Linked DNA regions of Homo sapiens: region 2 is linked to region 1. A link means that fine-mapping ties the variant in region 1 to the expression of a gene that starts in the linked region. Tissue or cell type: monocytes after LPS. Region 1 holds a variant in brackets; the other region holds the start of a gene. All regions are shown on one strand. Distances are from middle to middle. Region 1 overlaps TBC1D2 (TBC1 domain family member 2). Region 2 holds the start of CORO2A (coronin 2A).

The links. PIP is the estimated chance that this variant, and not a neighbour inherited with it, causes the effect.
Region 2: CORO2A starts here. The variant in region 1 is fine-mapped to the expression of CORO2A in monocytes after LPS (Quach 2016, PIP 0.95). The same link has a PIP of 0.9 or more in monocytes.

What each region holds. Positions count from the first base shown.
Region 1 is chr9:98,211,561-98,219,888 of GRCh38, forward strand. It overlaps TBC1D2 (TBC1 domain family member 2), which reads right to left. Exons shown (of 13, transcript NM_001267571.2): 7 at 1,548-1,658. Among named protein-coding and RNA genes, the nearest start is that of MIR6854, 13 kb to the right of the region's middle. RefSeq lists a silencer at 7,207-7,501. The variant G/T (reference allele first, on the strand shown) is at 4,821.
Region 2 is chr9:98,187,826-98,196,153 of GRCh38, forward strand. It overlaps CORO2A (coronin 2A), which reads right to left and starts at 4,812. Exons shown (of 12, transcript NM_052820.4): 1 at 4,734-4,812. RefSeq lists enhancers at 3,665-4,319, 7,556-8,072 and silencers at 4,472-4,521, 4,592-5,141.

The DNA.
Region 1 (8,328 bases):
AAAATCCACTCATAGCACTGCCATGATCTCTGGGCCACCCCGAATCCTATCTCATCCTGGGGTGGCAGCAGGGGAACAATTCTGTTGCACCCTTGCCCGGTCGCCATCTCCAAACACTTGCCGGGCACCAGCTCCAAGCCATCCTCTGTGCCTGTTCTTCTACCTATCCCACCTGGTGCCCACCTCTGTTGCCTGGGCTGCTTCCTGAGTCCCATCGTTAACACCTGTTTCAGGGATTCCTTTTTTTTTTTTTTCCTGAGAGAGTCTCGCTCTGTCATCCAAGCTGGAGTGCAGTGGCATGATCTTGGCTCACTGCAACCTCTACCTCCGGGGTTCAAATGATTCTCGTGCCTCAGCCTCCTGAGTAGCTGGGATTACAGGTGTGCACCACCACGCCCAGCTAATTTTTGTATTTTTGGTAGAGGCGGGGCTTCACCATGTTGCCCAGGCTGGTCTTGAACTCTAGCCCCAAGGGATCCACCTGCCTCGGCCTCCCAAAGCGCTGGGATTACAGGCCTGTGCCACCGCACCTGGCCCCTTCTCAGGGATTTCTGCTGCTGATTCCAAACAATCTCCCTACTTCCAGGCCCACCTTCTCAAGCCCACCCTCCTGAGCAGTCACAGCAGTCTTCTTGGAACAGGAACAGAAGTCTGATTGAGGACTTCTCCACTCAGAATCCTTCAGCTCCCCAGTTTCCTTGGAGTAAATTCCAAACTCCTCAACTCCAGCCTCATGTCTCACTCTCCCTAGCCCTGCCCCCCACCTCTCAGACCACACGTCTTTACTATGCTGTCTCTTTTCCTGGAAGGTCCTTCTCCACTGCTTGCCTGGATAACATTAACTCATCCTTAGGACTCAATTCAGAAGGTACCTCCTCCAGGAAGCCCTCCCTGACTTTCCTTCCTCCCTTTGGGCCCCCAAGAATCCCACAAGTCCAAGTGCATCTTTTTTTTTTTTTGAGACAGAGTCTTGCTCTGTTGCCCAGGCTGGAGTGCAGTGGCGCAATCTCGGCTCACTGCAAGCTCCGCCTCCCAGGTTCACGCCATTCTCCTGCCTCAGCCTCCCGGGTGGCCGGGACTGCAGGCGCCCGCCACCATGCCCGGCTAATTTTTTTTTGTATATTTAGTAGAGATGGGGTTTCACCGTGTTGGCCAGGATGGTCTCAATCTCCTGACCTTGTGATCCACCCGCCTCGGCCTCCTAAAGTGCTGGGATTACAGGTGTGAGCCACCACGCCTGGCCCCAAGTACATCTTGATTGGGTTACACTCCCTCACTAGTCTATACCCTCCTTGTAGGCAGGAACCAGCCTTATTGGTCTTGATGTCCCTACCCCACAGCTACTCAGTGAACGCTGCGGAACAAATGACTCAATCCCCCGACCACAGGGGTCTGGAGAAGAACCTGATATGGGCCCTGCTCACAAGGGGTCAGTTCAGAGGGAGAGGGGCAGACAGGAAATGAGGAGAGTGAGACGGAGTGGGCAGCATGGGGACCAGCAGAGGGGCCAGGGATGGAGACGGCTGGAATAGGGCCCCACCCCGCACCTTCGTCAGAAGGGCCTTCTCCTTCTCAGCCACCTTTCTCCAGATCTTTGTGACCTGGTGGATCTCGGAGTTGAGGAAGCAGTTCTGGGTCCGGTAAGCTTCCATGTCATCCTGGAGAAGAGAGTAAAATATGTTATCAGTTGGACATAAACATCTCCCTGGTCCTGGGGAGTCACACCCTCAAATGAGCCCCCAAAGCTTCTTTTCCTTAGAAATTTCCAATAATGGCAACAGAAGAGGAAGTCTGAAAGAAAAATAAAATACTCATAGCACCCTTCTCTATTCTTGATGTCAGCATGATGTGGTAAAGGGACCAGTAGGTCTGAATTTAAGTCCTGGCTGATGTTCTGGCTGGAAGGCCTCAGGCAGGCCACTGAACCACTCTGACCCTCTGTTTCCTCATCTGTAAAAGGGGCAAATACCAACTAACCTACTGGGCAGTTGGGAAACTAAGTGAGATAATGTGTGACAACACTAAGTACAGGGACCAAAACATAGCAAGTGCTCAAGTAGTGTTTGTTTTTAAAATCAACATATTTTATCATATATTTACAATCATACTGTAAAATTAACTCAGTGTCACTTTGTAAAACCTTTCAATGTTGCTACATAAGCTTCCCAGTGATCATTTTTAACCTCTGGTGATGATTCTATTGGGTGAATTTACCAGAACTTACTCATAATCCTTTTCCTGTCATTTTTTAATTTGAACCTGGGGTGTTTGCAGTTGGTTTTTGATTATGAATAATGCTGTGATAAACATCTCTGAGTTTTCCTTTTGCAAGTTGCCCATCCAGTGGAGGGAATGAGCTCCCTGCTGCTGGGGCATACAAGGAGAAGCCAGACAAGCACTGGGAAGGTTCAAGCAAGGACCTGAGCCTCAGAGAAGGATCAGCTATAGCAGTGGCTCTCAATTCTGCTGGGATGGACATTACAGAAGCCGTTCAGTCACGTAACACATTCTTAGAGCTATACCTCACAATTCCAGGGTATTTACTGGCTGAAACTCAGGCCCTTTCTCTCCCATTGATGTATGGGCTGGAGGTGAGTGCAAGCGATGCTGCAGCAAGGATGACTCCGACATGGCCAGGTTGATTTGGAAATGAAGAACATCACATGTGCAAGCGATGCTGCAGCAAGGATGACTCCGACGTGGCCAGATTGATTTGGAAATGAAGAACATCACATGTGCAAGCGATGCTGCAGCAAGGATGACTCCGACGTGGCCAGGTTGATTTGGAAATGAAGAACATCACATGTGCAAGCGATGCTGCAGCAAGGATGACTCCGACGTGGCCAGGTTGATTTGGAAATGAAGAACATCACATGTGCAAGCGATGCTGCAGCAAGGATGACTCCGACGTGGCCAGGTTGATTTGGAAATGAAGAACATCACATGTGCAAGCGATGCTGCAGCAAGGATGACTCCGACGTGGCCAGGTTGATTTGGAAATGAAGAACATCACATGTGCAAGCGATGCTGCAGCAAGGATGACTCCGACGTGGCCAGATTGATTTGGAAATGAAGAACATCACATGTAGTTTGGGGCACATCCTCGTCAGGGTCACATGTGCACAGCCCACAGGTGGTCCTGGCCCTCCCTGGGTGGGTCTTCACTCTGGCCAAGATGATCTCCAAGGTCTCCCCAGGCTGGAAGCTCCGATGCCTGCCCAGGGGCTGCTGCCCTCCGCCCAGAGCCTGACACACTAGAAGGGCCTCTGCTCCCAGGGGAGGGAACGAATGCCCCCTGTTGACTTTATCACATCACCCCTCACCACTCCACGGGGGCTCTCTGTGGTGCCCCAACCCAGGCCACCCCTGCTTTCATCTCCCTCGCTGTGCCAAGGCTGAAAGGCTGTGCATCCACTCAGCTTGCTCTCTGCCTTCTGGCTGGACCCAGGCAGTTCCAACCCCTGGCGCCACCCTCCTCCCCCTATCCAATCCTGTCCCTGACCTAGATAAAAAACCAGCTTCACTGCCTCTCAAAAATGCTGCTGTGTGCGCCAGCCGCTCTGCTGGCAAGTTTCTGCCTGCTTCTTCTCCACAGTCCCCATATCCTATCCTTATGTGGCAAGAAGTGAAAATCTTGTTTGTGGCACAGGGACCAGTCTCCCATGAGCATCAGGCCTTTCCTGGACCACTCCCCACTCTCTCTGGAGTCTAACACTTTACTGTCTGGAGATATAGAAACTTATGAATACAGAGGCTGTGCAGGCTTCCGGCATCACCCCCATCACCAACACCACGCAGCATATATTCTCTCACTTCATCCTCCTAGCAACCCTAGAAGGGATGTTCTTTTATTATTCCTATGACACAGATGAGGCCTCAGAGGCTCTGAAAGGGTAGGCAACTTGCCTAAGGCACAGCCAGTATAAGGCAGATGTGACCAAACCCAGGTCTGTCTGATTCTTTTTGTTTGTTTGTCTTGCTCTGTCGCCCAAGCTGGAGTACAGTGGCGTGATCATAGCTCATGGCAGCCTCGACCTCCTGGACTCAAGCAATCCTCCCACCTCAGCCTGTCAAGTAGCTGGGACTATAGGCAGGCACCACCATGCCTAGCTAATTTTTTGATTTTGTAGAGACGAGGTCTCACTATGTTTCCCAGGCTGTTTTCAAACTCCTGGCCTCAAGCAATCCTTCCACCTCGGCCTCCTAAAGTGTTAGGATTACAGGCATGAGCCACTGTGCCTGGCCAGGACTGTCTCATTCTAAAGCCCTAATCACCAAACTTCCTGCCGGGCACCATCTGAGCTCCCCACCAGCTGGAATCCACCTGGATGCCCACACTCTAGTCCCTACCCTCCAAGCGTTGTCCTTTGGTGTCTCCTGGCTACACGCATGCAGGCTTATGTGACCTCTCCTACCCATCAGACAGTATAACAACACATCAAAGACGCTGGAGTTGGCCATGTACCGGCACCGCCTGGTGGTCAGTGGCATGAATGCTGCGGGCACGCTGTCTGGGTGGAAATTCTGTCTTGACCACTGAGCCCCTGGACAAGTTACTTAACCTCATCCTCTCATCTGGAAAATGAGGATAATAACAGTACTACCTCATGTGGCTGGGAGAGGATTCAGTGAGTTAATATGTGCAAAAGGCTCAGAACGGTGCCTGGCATGTGGCAAGTGCAACGTGAGCGTGAGCATCGTCTCCCTCACTGAGTTTGCATGACAGCTCGAGAGCTACTATTCCCCACCCTGCACCCACCCCCTCAGTCGGCTCACAGAGTTCGGAATCCAATGCCCGGGAAAATACAACAAGCCCCCCC[G/T]CAAGGGAGGAAAGGACCTACCATGACCTGACCCATCTCCCTCATATCCACAAGGCTGTGGGATAACTATTAAAGTGCCCTAATTCCCATTTAACAGATGAGGAAACACACACAGAGAAAGTAAGTTCCCCTTGTCACGAAAGAGAGCCAGGATCCAAACCCAGGTGTGTTCAGCCCATGGCAGGTGCTCAGCAGACACTGCGTAGAGAAAGCAGACCCAGCTCTGGCGCTGGCCACTGCTCCACACCACTGGGTCTCCCTCCTTGATATCACCCCTTCCTCCTCCCAGGCCTAGATGTGCTCATGGATATTTATTTATTTTTCTTTCTTTTTTTATTTTTAGAGAAAGGGTCTCACTTTGTCACCCAGGCTGGAATGCAATGGCATGATCATAGCTCACTGCACTCTTGACCTCCTGGGCTCAAGTGATCCTCCTGTCTCAGGCCCCTGAGTAGTTGGGACTACAAGTGTGTGCCACTACACCCAGCTAATTAATTTTTAATTTTTTAAAAAGGTCTCATTATGTTGCCTAGGCTGGTCTCAAACTCCTGGCCTCATGCAATCCTCCAACCGTGGCCTCTCAAAGCACTGGATTGTGAGCCACCACGCTTGGCTACACACTGTTATTTCTAAGGCTTTGGAAAGAAGGCTTTTGTCACATAAGATACCCTGCTTCCAGCTCTAGGGAAGGCACAGACATGCCGGACAGGGAGGCAGAGTGAGCACAGCCTGGAACAGCAGTGGCAGTGGGTGGCGTCGGGCAGTACCTCCCCCTCCAGCTCGATGCCCTACCTTGAGTGCTCGTCTTGGCTCAGAACTGTAGGGAGGAAAAAGAGAAACCTCAGAAAAGAGAAAAGCCACAGGACAGTCACCAGTGGAATGAAAGAAGGAAAACCCTGGAGAAGGGGGACCAGGGAAGCAGGAGCCCGGGAATTCTCTTTGGGCCATGCCCATGGACTAGGCCCTGTGCTGTGTGGAAGGCAGTGGCCTGGGCATGGGAGGCCAGGTTCCGGCTGTAGCCCTGCCTCTTGCTGCCTGACCCTGGGCCAGTCCTTCTCCCTTGCCCCAGCTCAGCTGTCCCTGCCAGAAAATGAGTGGGGCAGACTAGATTTCTGAGTCTTTCCAGATCTGATATTCAAGAGGTCAGTGATCCTGTTCTCAAAACCAAAGTCTGAATAACAAGGGGCATTCCCTAAAGTTGGGTTCCTCAATCACAGGGCAGGCAGGAAACCTCAACATTCTCTGTCCTCAAACTCAAGACAATGGATATTTGATGGGTATTCTAAAAGCTAAAAACTAAGGAACACCAACTACATGCAACTCTTTCTCTTTTTTATTTTTTTTTTAATAGAGACAGTGTCTTACTCTGTTGTCCAGGCTGGAGTGCAGTGGCGTGATCACAGTTCACCACAGCCTCGAACTCCTGGGCGGCTCAAGTAATCTCCCACCTCAGCCTTCTGAGTAGCTAGGACTATGGCGGGTGCCTTCATACCTAGTGAATTTATTTTATTTTTTTTTAGAGACAGGGTCTTGCTATGTTGCCTAGGCTGGTCATGAACTCCTGGGCTTAAGCAATCCTCTAGCTTCAGCTTCCCAAGTAGCTGGGACTACAGGCACGTGCTACTGTGCCTGGCTAATTTTTTAATTTTTTGTAGAGATGAGATCTTGCTATGTTTCCCCGGCTTGTCTCTAACTCCTGGCCTCAAGTAATCCTCCTGCCACAGCCTCCCCAAATGCTGGCATTACAGGTGTGAGCCACCCATGCCTGGCCTTATGCAACCCTTTAAAGCACAAAGCACAAAACACTGGGCCTCTGAGGATCATATGCAAGTGTATTCTTGGTTAATGTGAATCACATACCCAGAGTCTCCATGTAGCTGAGCTCACTGATAAAGAAAATTCATGGCCAGGTGCGGTGGCTCACACCTGTAATCCCAGCACTTTGGGAGGCCGAGGCAGGCAGATCACGCGGTCAGGAGATCAAGACCATCCTGGCTAACATGGTGAAACCCCGTCTCTACTAAAAATACAAAAAAATTAGCCGGGCATGGTGGCGGGCACCTGTAGTCCCAGCTACTCAGGAGGCTGAGGCAGGAGAATGGCGTGAACCTGGGAGGCGGAGCTTGCAGTGAGCCGAGACCGCGCCACTGCACTCCAGGCTGGGTGACAGAGCAAGACTCCGTCTCAAAAAATAAAAATAAAAAAAAATAAAATTCCTGAATATGTAAATTCAGGGGCACACTCAGTCTCCTAGTGAGTCCATGATTACAATCAACTCTCAGGCTGTCTGGAGCCACCTGGCTGATCTAGTGTTCTTTTTTTTCCTTTGAGATGGTGTTTCACTCCTTCACCCAGGTTGGAGTGCAGTGGCACAATCTCAGCTCACTGCAACCTCCACCTCGTGGGCTCAAGCGATCCTCCCACCTCGGCCTCCAGAGTAGACGGGAACACAGGCGTGCGCCACCACAAATCTTTCTGACCCCTGTGCTGCTCTACCGGGGCTTGCACAGTGGATTCCGGCAGTATGGGTGGAGAGAAGAGGAAGCCGCCTGGCTGGGGGCAGGCAGGGTAGAAAAGCAATCAGATGGAAGCAGTTTTCCCTGCTGTGTGGAGGGCTGAGAGCTTTCTAATCATCTGGCTGCATTTGCATTGGAAAGGTTATGTTTTTCTTTTAACCCAAAAGAATCTCTGATTTCAGACTAAATAAGGGAAAAGATTCGGGAACTGGTTATGTGGGTTTTCAGTCTTTGCTGAAAGAAAGGGAAGGGAATCAGGTTTCACGTCCTTTTCCTTTATCCTTCTAACAGCCCTAGTCAAGAGGACTAGTTGGGCTATTTGACACAGAGGTGAGCTAACATGCCTAAAGTCACACAGCCAGAAAGAGGCAGAGCCAAGAGTCAAAGAGGTCAGTCTGACTTCAAAGCTTGGGTGGTGGCCACTGTTCAACACTGCCCACTGAGAGCTTTTCTCTCAAAAGCTTCCTGATTTCTTTTTTTTTCTTTCTCCATCTGCCCTCACCGAGTAGTTCTTTGATAGAGTAGCATGAGAGTTCTCAAGGTTATAAGTCTATATGTACAGTCTCGTGTGGCTTAATTATGAGGATACACTCTGAGAAATGCGTCATTAGGTGATTTCACTGTTGTGCAAACATTGTAGACTGGACGCAGACAAACCTAGGTGATTTAGCCTACTACGCACCCAGCTAGATGGTGTAGCCTATTGCTCCGAGGCTGCAGACCTGTGCACCTGTTACGGTACTGAATACCATAGGTGGCTGTCACATAATGGCATTTGTGTATCTAAACACATGTAAACATAGAAAAGGTAGCATGTTGTGCTATGATGTTATGACGGCTATGATGTCACTATGTGACAGGGATTTTTCTGCTTCATTGTAATCTTATGGGACCATCACATATGCAGCCTGTTATATGGCATCTGACTGTACATATGTGGTTGTGAGTGGCAGGGTTTGGGGCAGGACGAACTCTGGTTGTATGGCTCCCTT
Region 2 (8,328 bases), 24 kb before region 1:
ATCTGGCCATGTTCCTACCCAATTCAAAAGCCTTCCATGGCTCCCCGCTGACCCTGGCTGAAAGTCCTAGATTCTCCATGAGACACAGTTTCAATAAGCCATGTAACTTTTCTGTATTTTTGTTTTCTTAATTGGAAAAGCGGGATAAAAAGAGTAGCTCCGTCATACACTCGCAGGATTCCATTATGAGCATGGTGGGGTACACAGTCTAGCCCAGGGCCTGCCTGCTCCTCTCTTCCTCTTCTCCCGCCATCACTCTGTCCCAGCTCGTGCTTCTCTGAACATGCCAGGCATGGTCCTGCCTCAGGGCTTTTGCCCCAGCTGTTCCCTCCACCTGAATGGCTGTTTCCCCAGAAATGAGCCTGACTCACCCCTCTCCTTCAAGCCTTTGCCTAAAAATCACCTTCTCAATGAGGCCCCCAGCCCACCCTAGTTAAAACTGCCCCCTCACACACCCTAACCCCTCCTATGTTCTATTTGCTCCACCTCATTTATCACTGATTTTATTTATCACCTATTCATCTATTTTATTTATTGTTTTTCATCTGTCTTCCCCCCATCTGATTGTAAGCTCTTTGGGGGAAGATCTTTCTGGTCTATTTTGTTTAATATCAGCGCCTTCCCCCTTTCCCCAGCACTTAGAAAATACCTAGTACAGGTCAGGTGTGTTGGCTCACATCTGTAATCCCAGCACTTTGGGAGGCCGAGACAAGCGGATCATTTGAGGTCAGGAGTTCGAGTCCAGCCTGGCCAACATGGCGAAACACCGTCTCTACTGAAAATACAAAAACTAGCTGGTGTGGTGGCACGCACCTGTAATCCCAGCTACTCAGGAGGCTGAGGCATGAGAATCACTTGAACCCAGGAGGCAGAGGCGGAGGTTGCCGTGAGCCGGGATCATGCCACTGCACTTCAGCCTGGGAGACAGAGCGAGACTCTGTCTCAGAAAACAACAACAACAACAAAAAACAACAACAAAAACAAAACAAAAGAAACAAACAAAAAAACTAGTACAATGTAGGTGCTTAATAAATACTGGCTGAATGACTAATGGAATGAATGAACATAAAGCACTTAGGACAGAATTAGGCAGGCGGTAAACCCTCAATGAATGTTAGCTATTATTATTACTGTTAGTGATTCTTCAAAGTGAGGCTCCCATGTCCCTCCTCCTTGACTTCTGCAAGCTCATAATCACACCTTCCTTGTCCCCACCACACCCTGCCAATCTCTCAATTATAGTAAGGAGCACACCGCTCTTTAAATACCTGTATATCTTTTTCCATTTAGGCTGAACCAAATGAAATTGCCATTTCTTGTAAGTCAAAAAAAGTCACATACTGGCCGTTTCATGTGGTTTAACCTAGTAAGTTTCCCATAGCAGCCTGCAGACCCCCAGGAGGCACAGTTTGACCACAGAAGCAAAGTCACCTACTCCTGGCCCTTTAGACCAGGTGTGATTGCAAAGCACGTCCAATCTGTTCTGAAGGAGGCAAGGCATGGATTATAGACTTAAAACACAAGAAGATTCTGCTGAATTATTTTCTGGACCTCCTGAGATTTGGCAGAGAAGATAAAAACACACCAACTTCTAAAACGATCCAGCTTCTGGCCATTTTGAAATAGCAAAGGTTTAAGGCTGAAACCCCTCGGTGGGGAGCTAGCTACCTGCCTCTAAGGGGATTCATTTAATGAATCTCCTTCCAATCTCGGCTTTGCTACTGAGATTTGTTCACTCTAAGAGGTTGGCTGTCAGAGCTCAAACAAATTCAGCAACTGCTGAGTCTACCCCCATTTCACAGATGGAGAAAGTGAGGTCCAGAGAGGGGAACGGATCGGCCCAAGGTCACACAGTAGGGAAGAGGAAGACTTCAATCTGGAATCTATGTCTGCTGACTTTAGTCTCATGGTCTTTCTTCTGGATTAAACTGTTTCTATGCTGGCCAGACTCCGGTAATGTAAGCTTCAGTGCCACTATTTTTTAAGCTGTATTTGTCAAATGAAATGTTTATTAAGCCTCAGATAAAACTGAACACTTCTTCACTAGACGGCAACTCCTTTATTTTTTTTTTTTTTTGAGATGGAGTCTCGCTCTGTCGCCCAGGCTGGAGTGCAGTGGCACAATCTCGGCTCACTGCCACCTCTGCCTCCCGGGTTCAAGTGATTCTCCTGCCTCAGCCTCCCGAGTAGCTGGGATTACAGGCATGTGCCACCACACCCAGCTAATTTTTATATTTTTAGTACAGACAGGATTTCATCATGTTGCCCAGGCTGGTCTCAAACTCTAGACCTCAGGTGATCCGCCCACCTTGGCCTCCTAAAGTGCTAGGATTACAGGCATGAGCCACTGTGCCTGGCCAGAAGACAACTTCTTACAAATAACAGCACTACATATGTCTCTCTCCCTAGTTACTTCCTTAGGATAAAGTCCCCAAAGTAGCCGGCTAAGGGCAAAGGGCAAATATGATCATTTTCATGATAACAGGCTGCCAGGTTGCTCTGCAAAATTAAATGCCACAGGCGAATCCCTATAGCCTTGCCAGCACAGAGTTTCATCTTTTTATTTTTATTTTTGCTAATTTTACAGGAATAAATACAGACTGCTTTCATTTATTATATGTTATGTGTTTTTTTGGAGAAAAAAAGGCACTCCAATCTTGGAATCAGGATCCCTGGGCTCGGTTGCTGGTTTGCTGTGTGACCTTTGCCCAGTCACATCCCCTCTGGCGACAGGGGATGCCTATCTGTAAAATGAGGGGGTTGAATGAGACGACGTCTGAAGGCTCCTTTCAGCTCAGACATTCCATGATTCCATGGTGCATTTAAAAAGTATTAGCAATTAAAGTCATAGCATGACTTTTTAATAACCAGAATCTGCCATGCTCCTAAATCAGGCCAAAAAGGCTTGAATTAGGCAAGCAGGAAAACAGGGCCCAGATTATACATGTGTCGAGATGACAGGAGACCCAGGTAGCACTTAAGCCTGTGCGTCGGAGCTGGGCTCATGGGCCAGCACATATACTTTGCCTGCTTTTACGAGGGGATAATAACACTCATTTGTGGTCCAGCTCCCAGTCCTGTGCAGCTCCACCATGGCCGCAGGGCAAGGTCATAGGCACTACTTCAGCCCTAGAATTCCATAGACTTTCAGTCCAAGGTAGCTCACCCCCAGGTTCTGCTTGAATACCTGTGATGACAAAGAGCTCACTACCTGTCCAGGGGCCTCCTGCCCTCTTTTGGCTGTTAAGAAAATCCCTGGGTGCAGGGCAGGTCATGAAGGGGACAAGAAAGACCAGGAGGCTGAGAAGTGATTCCTAGAAACTGCTCCCTCAAACAGGGCAGGCATCAGGGAGGTGGAGAAGAGGCCCCATGGGGCAGGAAAGGCCTGCAGAGGGGCTCCGGCTCTCCTCACTCCGGACCTCTCAGACGGTCCCCAGGAGGGGCAGGAAGCTGGGGAGACACATTCCAGTCCTGATGCACAGGTGGGTTCTGAACAAGCCCCAGGAAAGCGGAGGCCCCACAGCCTGCTCCAGGGCAGACACCTCGGCTCCCTCTTCTTGCCTTGGCTCCCTGGGATCTGATGGGAGAAACTGCTGGGCCTGGGGCTGCTGGGTCTGGAGATGAGCATATTTAAGGGACCTGACCACTGCCCCAGGGTGAGGGAGGAAGGGTCAGAGGTTGTTTGTGTGTCCAGAGCAGGACCAGCAGGAGAGGCAGTGACTGGGTAGCAGATTCCAGCTTGGTTTACAACTAGTGAGATTCCTATCACAAGGAGTGTGCAAGGGGGCAGCAAGACCTTCCAGAGGGGATCTTACAGAGGGGCTGGGCCAGATGCCATAGGTCTTCTTTACCTAGGGAGCCTGGGACCACAGTCCCTCAGACCTGTGCTCTGCCCCATCCCTTAATGCCACGCGGACACAGCACCTTGGCACTGTCACCCCTCTGAGGTCCAGGCGTGGCCGCCAGTCACCCCTTGTCACACCAGCTAGTGTGTGTCACACCTTATCACACACTAGCTCTGGGACACAGAGCTAGGCACCAGCACCTGGCCCGGGTGGGGAAGGGGAAGGAGCTATCCTATACCACTCTCTAAATCGAGGTGCCTACGTGGGGCTGGTCCAGGCAGTCGTGCCGCCAGGAGTCCAGCCACCTCCAACCTAGGGCTCCTCCAGCCCCAGACGAGTAAACCCTCTTGGCGGGCCGGCTGATGCCCCACATGCACGCCCAGGCCGGCTTGGCGGGGACCCGGGGATGCCCCCCACCCCACCGTTTCCTGTACCAGGAAGCTGAGGCCCAGCAGGTAACGCAGCCAAGAGGGGGAGGGTCCCGACAAGAGTCCCATGGAGCACCCGGGCCACAGCAGGGGCCTGTCGGGACCGGCTGGCCGCGCCCAGAGTGAGCTTCCCTCACCGCGGGCAGGAGGGGTGGGCGGTGCAGACAGTGCTCATGAGGGCAGCGAGCCGTCGGGAGCCCGGACCTCGAGGCGGCCCCTCCCAACAACCCCGCGAGAAGGGGGCCACCAATGAGCAAGCTATCCTGACGGGGAAACTGAGGCCTGGAGAGGAGCAGTGCTTTGTGCAAGGTCACGCAAAGGGGCTGAAAGCCAGGTCCCCCGCGCTCCGAGCCCCGCATCCCTCCCTCTCCGGGAGCTGCAGCCGCAGCGCGCACGTCCCGCCCGACGCCCCCATCGCGCAGACCGGGAAGGCACGGCCGGCGGCGCAGGGCCGCCCTACCTTGATGACTGCCGCGCAGGTGGCGGTGGCGGCGGCGGCGTCCAGCTCCGGCTCCGCGCTCCTCGCCGCCCGCCGACTCCCGGCGCCCAGAGCCGCCGCCGCCTCCCCCTGCAGCCCGGCGGGCGGGGCCGGAGGGCGGGGCGGGGGCCTGGCCCAAGGTCCGCCCTTTTGCCCGCCCCGCGGGTCCGCCCTGGCCACCCTTTTCCGCCCCCACGACCCCGACCGCGCTCCTGGCTCCCCGGGGCGGGTCTCGGGGCGCGCACACGTGCTGGGAACAGGCGCGCACACGCCGCAGTGATTGGGGCGGGCTGCCGGCCACCAGGCGGAGGCTGGGGACAGGCAGAGCCGCGGGCCCCACGTCGCGCCGTGCCCTCGCTGCGTGGTGTGGGATGAGGAACCTGACCTCCCGGAGCCTCAGTTTCCCCCGTTGTGAAATGGAGACAGTAACCGCGTCGGCCTCTTAAGGCTGTTTGAGCCCTGGATGTGACGATCCCGGCCGGGTACAGTGCGCGCGCCGAGCCCGGCCAGGGAAGCGCTCCTTTCCCCGAGCAGTTACAGCGGTTACCGAGGCTTCCCCGTCCGCAGGGAGGAGAGGAGCCGGGAGCGCCGCTGGGAACCGAGGAGGACGCCCTTCCTTCTCTCGGGACCAGCCGGGGGCGCTGCTGCCAGCCTCGCTGGCTGGAGAGCCCTGAGGACACTAGACAATGGGGAGGCCCTACCTTTGGGTACCACCCCCACCTAACACTACTGAGCCACGCACTCCTCTAAGCGCCTTCTGTGCATTACCTCGCTTCACTGTCACACAGGCCTATGAGGTTGATACCATTACTCACCTATTTAACACAAAAGAGCTGAGGCACAGAGATATTAAGTACCTAGGTTAAGATCACCCGGCTAGTCATGCAACCCCAGGCAGTATGGCTCCCACGGCTACTAAGCTAACAGCCACTCCACTCCACACCACGTCTGTGAAGAGCTCTTGGTTTTGTTCAGTAGAGACGGGTTATCTTGAGGGCCTTGAACTGCTCCGTGGCACATAGTAACCACTCAATATATAGTTGTGGAGTGGATAACAGAGTACACTGTTACTACTTTACATATCTGTATCGTTTCTTCTAAGCTTCTAATAATAGTGGCTTTATTTAGCCACTATTATTACCTCCATTTTACAGATAAGAAAACTGAGGCTTGGAGTGGCAAGGTACTTAGGGAGCTCTTGATTCTCTCCTTAGAATGTGACTCAGCTTCCATAGTCCACTGTACCACCCCCCTGCCCAGAGCTGGACGGGCTCCCTGCCTACCACCCAAAGCCCAGTGTGCACTATGGTCCTGAAAACCCCATCCTACAGCTCTGATTCAGACCTTCTGGAGCTGGATTGCCCAGCAGGTAGACTGAACGCATGCTTCTGGTGTTAGCGTGCAAGAGTTGGGTATCAAGCATATGGATGGCTGGGCGCAGTGGCTCATGCTTGTAATCCCAGCACTTTGGGAGGCCAAGGCAGGTGGATTGCTTGAGCTCAAGAGTTCAAGACCAGCCTGGCCAACATGGTGAAAACCTGTCTCTACTAAAAATACAAAAATTAGCCGGGCGTGGTGGCATGTGCCTATAGTTCCAGCTACTTGGGAAGCTGAGGCAGGATAATCACTTGAACCTAGGAGGTGGAGGTGGCAGTGAGCCGAGATCACATCACTGCACTCCAGCCTGGGCTACAGAGTGGGACTCTGTCTCAAACAAACAAACAAACAAACAAACATATGGATGAAATCAGAACATTGTGGGAATTCTTTATAATCATGGTTTGGTTTTTACTTGAATTACAGCTGGACGGTGGGCACCATGATCTTTCCCAGGCTAAGGCATCTGAATAACTTTGTTGTTGTTGTTTTTGCATGGTTTTGTTCTGTCGCCCAGGCTGGAGTGCAGTGGCACAATCCTAGCTTGCTGCAGCCTCCACCACACAAGCTCAAGCAATCCTCCCACCTCAGCCTCCCGAATGGCTAGAACTACAGGTGCGTGCCACCATGCCCAGCCAATTTTTATATTTTTTGTAGAGATAGGGTTTCGCCACGTTGCTCAGGCTGGTCTCCAACTCCTGGGCTCAAGCAATCTGCCTGCCTTGGCCTCCCAAAGTGCTGGGATTACAGGTGCGTGCCACCACGCCTGGCCTTGAATGTCTTAATTCACTTAGGGCTTGGGCCAGCATCTCTGGTGTGGCTTTCTACCTCTGCCAATGCCACTCGCCTTGCACTCTGACATCTCTGAGCCTTTGCTCTGTCTGCAGTTCTCTTCCCAAATCATCATCTCCCTTGTCTAAACCCACTCATCCTTCCAGGCCTAGCCTTCCTAGATGTCCTATGGATGTGCCCTCCAAGGCTTGCACCTGCATCTTCCTACCCTGTGCCATGGTGGTTGGTGGCTGGGACTGTTTGGGGAACAGCTGGTTTGACAGAGACATCTCTGGGGGCTGTGGGCATATGGACCCATAAGCCAGAGGGAGACCTCTGCAATGAACCTGGGACCCTTCCTGGGGTTGCTGTGGCTGGGGAGTGTCCTCCTCTCTTGCCCCTTCCCTCCCTCTAATCCTGGTCCAGATGCAGGATTGCACACATGGGGAAACTGAGGCCACAGTGGGCATGACCTACGCAGGATCCCCTAGCTAGAAAACCACATAGCAGATCTGGTTCCAAAGTTGGGCCCATCTCCTGGCATCTTCTATTAGGCCTTAGTGTGGATTGGGATGGGCCAGGAAACCTCCCTCTTCCTTCCCAGTGCACCCACATGGCTGGCTTTGTTAATCTTCCATATGTGGGTAAACATCTTGTGCAGGACCAGAACATATGTGTGTGTGTGGTGGGGGTGGGGGGCAAGTTCTCCATCTATCTGCCCCACATGGAACTTTCTGTACGATATGGCCCCATGTCCATGGGGGAGGGGGTTGAGAAAGAATGAGGAGACAGTGCCTGGGGGTTGGGGAGGGGTCTGTGTTTGGAGGATAGTAGCCTTGAACACGGGCAATCTCTGGAAGTGAGTGAGCACCTCTTATGTTAGGGGTTGTTGGGAGGGGGGCCTTCCACCTCCTTTGACCCAGTCCCTTTATTCTTAGGGATGTTGCCCCAGGGAGGTTCCCTGGGTAATTCCCTTTTCCTCTCCTTTAGAGCAGGTCGGACCACAGCTTGCTGGGGGCCTAAGGCCTGGGGAAGGCATGCTTTGAGCATGAGGTCCTGTCCCCTAGGGTGGGAAGGTGGGGCTGAGAGGGATCGGATCCTCCAGCCCTGGAAGGCAGCAGCCCCAGGGGAAGGGGGCAACAGCTGTGGTGCGGGCCAGGAACCTGACACCAGGAGTGGGCCCCAAACACCCTCCAGAAAGAGCAGGGAAGGGCAAGCAGGCGCCCCAGGGGCAGCAACAGCAGGCACAGATGCTCTGGGGTGGGCCCACCAGTCCCTGCTCAGCCTCCTTGCCATGTGGGTATCATGCTTCTCTTGTTGTCTCTGATGAAGGGGAGAAATAGTGCTACAATCCCAGCGTGAGGCAACCATGAGGAAATTCTTCCTCTAGTTTTCCTTGGCTTAGAACTATCTTCTGAGGGTATCCCCA